Homo sapiens: one gene and its partner. The protein of the gene in region 1 interacts with the protein of each later gene in a pairwise test. Each region holds a gene or a part of one and is shown on either strand. Other genes may lie near its edges.

Region 1 (3,820 bases):
ATTAAATGTTTTGTAACATTATTCAAGATATTCTCTTTGCAGAGATACAAAGATTGACTAATTGCCTCACTTTCTTTTCAGTTTATGCCAGTTATTCAGACAGAAAGTGAACACAAGCCTCCTGTAAATGGAAGTTACTTTGCCCATGTGAACCCTGCAGATGGAGGGTGCCTACTGGAGAAATACAGTGAGAAATGTCATGATTTTCAGTGTGCATTACTGGCTAATCTTTTTGCCAGTGAAGGCCAACCTGGCAAGGTGATTGTGTCCATAAAAATACAATATTCCCTAAATGTTCTCAGAAAGCTAAAAATGTGAACTTTTACTGCCATAAATATGGTTTTGCTAAGAAAATTAGTTTCCCACTTTGGGAGGCCAAGCTGGGTGGATAACTTGAGGTCAACTTGAGGTCAGGAGTTCAAGACCAGCCTGGTCAACATGGTGAAACCCCATCTGTACCAAAAAATACAAAAATTAGCAGGGTGTGGTGGTGTGTGCCTGTAATCCCAGCTACTCGGGGGGGCTGAGGTGAGAGAATCGCTCAGACTCGGAAGGCAGAGGTTGCAGTGAGCCAAGATCATGCTACTACCCTCCAGTCTGGGCCACTGAGTGAGACTCTGTCTCAAAAAAAAAAAAAAAAAGAAAATTAGAGCTTCCTAAGTCAAAGCTCTTTAAATAACCCAGTAATGAAAGGTTCAGAGAGTATGACAGGCAGAGCAAAAGTCATCTTTAAGGTTAAGAATAATATGGCTGGAGGCCAGACGCGGTGGCTCACGCCTGTATTCCCAAGCATTTTGGGAGGCCAAGGTGGGTAGATCACCTGAGGTCAAGCATTTGAGACCAGTCTGGCCAACATAGCGAAACCTCGTCTCTACTAAAAATACAAAAATTAGACAGGGAAGGTGGCACATGCCTGTAGTCCCAGCTACTTGGGAGGCTGAGGCAGGAGAATTGCTTGAACCTGGGAGACAGAGGTTGCAGTGAGCCAAGATTGCACCATTGCACTCCAGCCTGGGCAACAAAGCAAGACTCTGTCTCCAAAAAAAAAAAAAAAAAAAAAAAGAATAGTATGGCTGGCACAATGGCTTATGCCTATAATTCCAGTCCTTTGAGAGGCCAAAGCTGGAGGATCACTTAAGGCTGGCAGTTTCAGACCAGCCTGGGCAACATGGCAAGACCCTGTCAAAAAAAAAAAAAAAAAATTTTTTTTTTTAATTAGCCAGGTGTGGTGGTACATGCCTATAGTCCTAGCTACTCAGGAGGCTGATGCAGGAGGATCCCTTGTGCCCAGGTGTTTGAGGCCGCAACGAGCTATGATCACACCACTGCACTCCTACCTAGGTGACAGCAAGACCTGTCTTAAAAAAAAAAAAAAAAGACTACTTAGTAAGCAAGACCTTTTTCTGAGAACTAAAAGGTAATAGAATATTAATTTGGGGAGTGAGTTTGTCATCTACATGAACCATACAGCTAAAATAAATAATGCCTACTTACAGGTAGTAAATAGGTTATTTGCTTCTTTCTGATGAATCACACATTGCTCTAGATAGAAATGGTGGTAGCAAAAACTTACAGCAAGAACAAAGTAAGGAAAACTAATGCCTTACTTGATATTTACTTCCTATTAGTACACAAAAATATGATTTCAGTGTTAGCTTTTGTGAAGACTCTCCAGTTTTGGAAGTAGAGATAGCCTCTTCAGCTACTTTGAGATAAGAGATTGAGAAGTGAAAATACTTAACGTCCAAGTTGTGGAGATAATACAGAATTTTAAGGGAAGTGAGAAAATGTAATCATTTTCTCCTCATCCCCACTTACCAAAGGTTAATTCCTTTAACCAAAGAATTACCAAAGGTAATTCTCAATCTTTGACTGCCTCGACACGTATGTTAAGAGTCTCTAGACTCTCTGCACTGAGAAACTTGTCTTTCTCAGTTTCTCAGTTCAAGAAAGCATGCTTAAGACTTACTAGTAAATTACATGTAACTGATAAGTATGTGTGTGTGTGTGTGCATACATATATATATGACTGATCAAAATTCACGGGATTGCAACATCTCAACTCAGATCTGGGGGCTCTAAGCAAAGAACAGAATATTTGCTTGATAGAATTAAATTATATAATGTTTTATTTCAGTAGTTATTTTGCAGCATAGTCAATGGTATGCATCTTTATGTCCTCTATAGGTAATTGAGGTGAAAGCCAAAAGAAGAACTGGACCACTTAACTTTGTGACTTGTATGAGAGAGACCCTGGAAAAACATTATGGAAATAAGCCTATAGGAATGGGAGGTACTTTCATAATTCAGAAGGGAAAAGTGAAGTCTCACATTATGGTAAGAGCCCATGTGTGCATACATGCATGAAGGAGTTTGTGTGTGTGCACTTACTTAAGATCTTAGGATTTTTTTTTTTTTTTAAACGGATCCTTGCTCTGTTGCCCATGCTGGAGTGTAGTGGCACAATCTTGGCTCACTGCAACCTCCATCTCCCGGATTCAAGGGGTTCTCCTGCCTCAGCCTACTGAGTAGCTGGGATTATAGGCATGCAGCATCACAACCGGCTCATTTTGTAGTTTTAGTAGAGACAAGGTTTTGCCACATTGGCCAGACTGGTGTCGAACTCCTGACCTCAGCTGATCCACCTGTCTCGGCCTCCCAAAGTGCTGAGATTACAGACGTGAGACGCTGCACCGGGCCAGATCTTAGGATTGTAAAGTATGTGTTGGGAATTCTACATTTGAAGACACTTTAAACAAATCCTTTTTATTATGATTGTATTACTTTAAAATTTAAATGATAATTTTATAAATCAGATTGTAAGATAATATCTTTGTCCATGTTAGTATATTAGAACTTTATTTTGGATATGTTTGTTTTTAAGATCAAGATAAATTCAAGGCCTGCAGAGTGACTCATGCCTGTAATCCCAGCACTTTGGGAGGCCCAGGTGGGAGGACCGCTGGAGGCCAGGAATTCAAAACCAGCCTGGTCAACATAGTGATGATGGCAGCGGCAGGCTCTCTGGAGCGGCTGCAGCAGGGAGGCACGGCTGAGGCTACACACTCTATGGAGCGGGTGGGAGCTGAAGACAGGTGGGAGTCCTGCCCCTTCCGAGTTGGCGCTGGAGCTCCGTTGGTGCCGCTGCAATCGCCCAAGCCATGGCTGTAGTCCCTGGCATCCCTGTGCTCTCCCAGTGGGAACAGGCGAGAGCCCCAACTGCCCAGGCGCAGCTGCAGCAGCTCAAACCCGCGGCTGCAGACCTGGGTCTCCCGCTCCACGGAGCAGGCAGGAGCCCTGCCTTCTCCACACAGCTGCAGCTGCCCAAACCGTGGCTGCGGACCCAGGCATTCCTGCATTCTTGGGGGTCTGGGAAGGCCCCCACTGCTCTTACAGGCTTGGAAATGCCTGCTCCCACTGCCTGGCTTCTCCCTGCTGTCGGCGCCTGCTCCGATCCAGGAGCAAAGTCAGGCAGAGCCCGGTCGCTGTCGCAGCCCAGCCAGGTGTGCACACGCTCAGGGCACTGCTGACACACCAGCCCCCTGCCGTCCCGGCCCCTTCTGGATTTGGGGCGCTGACACGAGCGTAGAAGGGAAGCTGAGCGGCGGCTGAGAGCAGCTCCCCACTGGCCTTCAGGCACCCCTTGGCACCTACAGCCTGGATTCCGTGATCGGCAGCAGGAGGCAGACAGGTTCCGGGGCAGAAGGGGGCGGGTTTCCGGTGAGGCCCCACTTTCGGGCCAGGGAAGGCCTGAAGGCTGGGGGCCCAGCTGCCAATCCCACACACCAGAGTGGAAACTTGTGGTGCTTTTTCCAGGCCC
Region 2 (3,820 bases), about 16 Mb from region 1:
TCTTTAGTGTTTTTTAATTGGTAGAAGTTTCTAAAAAATTAGTTTTGGGTCAATGAAATCAAATTATTGATTTAGTAGAAAAGCTGAGATGATCTCATCTGATTCCCAAATTTTATAGATGGAAGTCCAGAATTATATAGTCAATGGGGTAGCAGCAGAACCAGGCATTTTAATTGTACCATTGTGTCTCTTTATTACTCATTCTGCCTGCTAAGTATAGGTGTTTTCCAAGATTCTTCTCTTTCTCCTTTACCCTTTGCCGGGTTCAACCATTTTTATAACTTAAACAAAAATCATCTCTTCCCAAATGACTTGTAAATATTTACCATAATTTATCATAAATTAAGTTGCCTACCAGACATTTGTCTTCAGATATCAAATTCAGCATATCCAAAATAGTACAAAATATCTCCTCACCAAAATAAGATTATCCTGCTAACTTACTGCTTCTAGTATCACTTCCATATGTCTGCTTCCTCAAATATGACCCTTATTTGTTGTTTTCCTCTGGTCTGTCATTATAAGATCCTTTCCATTTTTCTTCAGTAATTTCTCTTGGGCCTTAGGTCCTTTACCAAGGATCTAATTAGAAAAAAAATTACATTGGAGGAACTCCTTTACTTAAAAAAACTGTTTTAAGGTGAAAGGCAGCATGGAGTGTTAAAAGAATGTTTAGCTAGGAGATGGAAGACTTGTTTCTAGATCTGGCTCTGCGATTGATTTGGGGCAAGTCCTTTTACTCACTGGGGCCTTACTTCCTTTATTTTAAAGTGAAGAGGTTGAATTAGTGGATTTTCTATTAAGTCTTCTGTATTATATGTATGTCCTTTCTTTCTCCCCCTGCCCACACCACTTCAATAGTGTCTGCAGGCTCTGGAGTTCTTGCATTCGAACCAGGTCATTCACAGAGACATCAAGAGTGACAATATTCTGTTGGGAATGGATGGCTCTGTCAAGCTAAGTAAGTAGGAGCCTTAGGAATGATAATACTTCTCTGCCTGTGGGGCCCTGTCTCCTGTGAGATGGTCATCATATAATAGTAACTACGACACTCACCAAAGGGTCTTTATGATTTCATGGGATATGAGGGCTGTTTTATATTTTCTGTATTAATCATAGGATATCATTTCATTATTTTTTCATTCATTTATACATTTAACAACAACCACAAAAAACTTTGCTGAATGGTTACTCTGTGCTAGGTCCTGTGATGGGCACTGAGAGTAAATTTTCCCTACCTTCTCAATCTAGTATGGAAAACGTGTAATAGATAATTAGAAAAAAGAGTTTTGTATAATTTCTTTCATTCAGTTATTCAGCAAACTTTTATTGAATGTCCAGTACATGCTGGTCCTTCTAGGGATATGAGGACAAGTAAGAGGACATAATCCATACTCTCAAAGGCTTCCTAATTTAAATAAATTTATAATTGCAATATAATGTAAAAACCATGGCAGGTAGAGCATTTTGTTCAAAGGTGTAAAGACCAGTAGACCAGACAAACAGGCTGTGTCATGGGTGGATGGGCAGTTTATGGAAGGACTGCTAGCAGCCCTGGGTCTGGGGCATAAAAACAGGGCCATGCCTAGTCATAGGTGATTGGGGTTTAAATCAAGGACTCGTGCCCAAGGAATAAGACAAGGACCTAGTCGCCAGATTTGGGATTATGGGAATGGTTTTTCAAGAACAAAGCAGAATTGGGATGAGCAATCAAGACCAAAATGGGCAGCTTGGACTTTAACACTAAGTCCCCTGGTTTGAGGAGAAGTAGGAGGCCAGAGATGGTGTTTCTTATATTCCTTCTATTTCTCTTCAGGGTTCAATAGGAAATAGGCTAGGAGCTAGACATGAAGGTGGTAGTCAAGTGACTTTGGAGAGACAAAGGATAGCAGAGCTGGAAGCCAGGCGGATCTTGTCACCTATGTGTAGGTACACAGTCAACACTTACTGAAGTGAGTGTATATCCTAAATGTATGTTCTTTCTCTTATTTTTCTTTTCTAGCTGACTTTGGATTCTGTGCACAGATAACCCCAGAGCAGAGCAAACGGAGCACCATGGTAGGAACCCCATACTGGATGGCACCAGAGGTTGTGACACGAAAGGCCTATGGGCCCAAGGTTGACATCTGGTCCCTGGGCATCATGGCCATCGAAATGATTGAAGGGGAGCCTCCATACCTCAATGAAAACCCTCTGAGAGTGAGTGTTACCAGTTCTATTTCAAGTTATTTGGGCTGTTGTCTCTAGTCCCAGGAAATAAGAATCCAGGGTGTTCTCTGTGGTTTTCAACCTGGAGATCCCTTTTCTGGATACAACTAGTCACTGTTGAACTTAAAGTATAAATGGCCAAAGAAAAGGAATATTAGAAGTCACTCATTCATTTATTCAACAATTATTTGAGTCCCTGTCAAGTGCAAGAAACTATTCTAATGAAAATAAAATAAATTAATATGTAGTAACAGATGGTAAATGCTGTGAGAAAAAGCAAAGTAAGGGAGTTAACAGAGTAATGGAGGAACAGGTGTGCTATTTTAGAGTAGAGAGGGAAGTTCTCTCTTATAAGTTATTTTATTCTGCAGAGTTGGGAAGTCATTAGAGGGTTTTGAGCTGAGGAGTAATGTGATCTGATTTATGTTTTAAACAGATCATTTTGGCCGCTTTTATGGAAAATAGACTGCGAGAGACTGTTGTAATAGTTCAGAGTGGTGGTGTCTTGGTAGGAGTGGAAGTGAGAAGTGGTCAGATTCAGGAAATTAAAGGACTAGCTGACAAGATGAACTGAATATTAGAGAAAGAGGAATCAGCAATGACTACAAGATTTCTGGTCTGAATTGCTGAAAAAATTCAGTTGCCATCTGTTGAAATGGTGAAGAGCATACTTAAGTTGGGTAATAAAGAGTTGGTTTTGAATGTGCTGATTTGAAGTGTTAATTGGACATTTAAGTGGAGCTGGAGTAGAGTTTGGCTTAAGAGTCTGGAGTTCAAGGGTGAGAAGTCAGGACTATAAACATAAATTTATTAGTAGATAATATATAGTTGGTATATATAGTAGGTAGATGAGATCACTCACCTAGGGAATGAGTACAGTTAAAGAAAAGAGATTTGAGTACTGAGCTCTAGGTTATTCCACTGTTTACAGGTTGGAAGAACTAGCAAAGTAGACCAAGGAGTGGCCTTTCTAGTGTGAGAGAACAGAGAAGTGTCTTGGAGGTGAAGTGTCCTGGAGATGAAGAGAACAGTGTGCTTCCCGAAGGAGGAGGAGGGTAGATTATGTGTCAAATGTGATTGATAGGTTAAGATGAGACTGAGAAATGAACATTGGATTTGCCAATGTAGAGGTTCTTAATGACCTTAATAATCAGTTATCAGTAGAGAGATGGGGATGAAAGTCTAATTAAATTCATGAAAGTGGAAGAAGAGGACATTGAGATGGCATGTATAAACAGGTTTTTTTTTCTCTTAAAGGAATTTTGCTGGGAAGGGTAACAAAAATGGAGCACTATCTTAAAATGGAGTCAAGGGAGGGTTTTTCTAAAAGATGATGTCTGTGTGCTAATGGGAATGATTTAGTGGAGAGGAGGAAAATGGTCATGTACAAGAAGGAAGTGACAACCATAGAAGTGATATCCTTAAGTCGATGAGAGGGGTTCGATCAAGTACTGAAGTAAAGGACATTAGATTAGCATGGACAATTTATCCCTTGTAACAGAGCATCTCAACACAGGTGCAAATAGGTTGGTAATCTTGGTGTGGGCAAATGTGAAATTTATTCTGATTGCTTTTATTTTCTCATTTATTCCCACCTCCCATCCAGTGCAGG

What was found.
Region 2: the proteins of C11orf54 (region 1) and PAK1 interact in binary tests that used the Homo sapiens proteins (3 or more experiments, as listed by UniProt).

The regions. Positions count from the first base shown.
Region 1 is NC_000011.10:93,755,129-93,758,948, forward strand, and holds part of C11orf54 (ester hydrolase C11orf54), read left to right. Parts: intron 1-81; coding exon 82-258; intron 259-2,187; coding exon 2,188-2,337; intron 2,338-3,820. UniProt on the Homo sapiens protein: Exhibits ester hydrolase activity on the substrate p-nitrophenyl acetate, in vitro. Regulates DNA damage and repair by regulating HIF1A degradation via chaperone-mediated autophagy (CMA).
Region 2 is NC_000011.10:77,334,465-77,338,284, reverse strand, and holds part of PAK1 (serine/threonine-protein kinase PAK 1), read left to right. Parts: intron 1-861; coding exon 862-961; intron 962-2,002; coding exon 2,003-2,199; intron 2,200-3,820. UniProt on the Homo sapiens protein: Protein kinase involved in intracellular signaling pathways downstream of integrins and receptor-type kinases that plays an important role in cytoskeleton dynamics, in cell adhesion, migration, proliferation, apoptosis, mitosis, and in vesicle-mediated transport processes.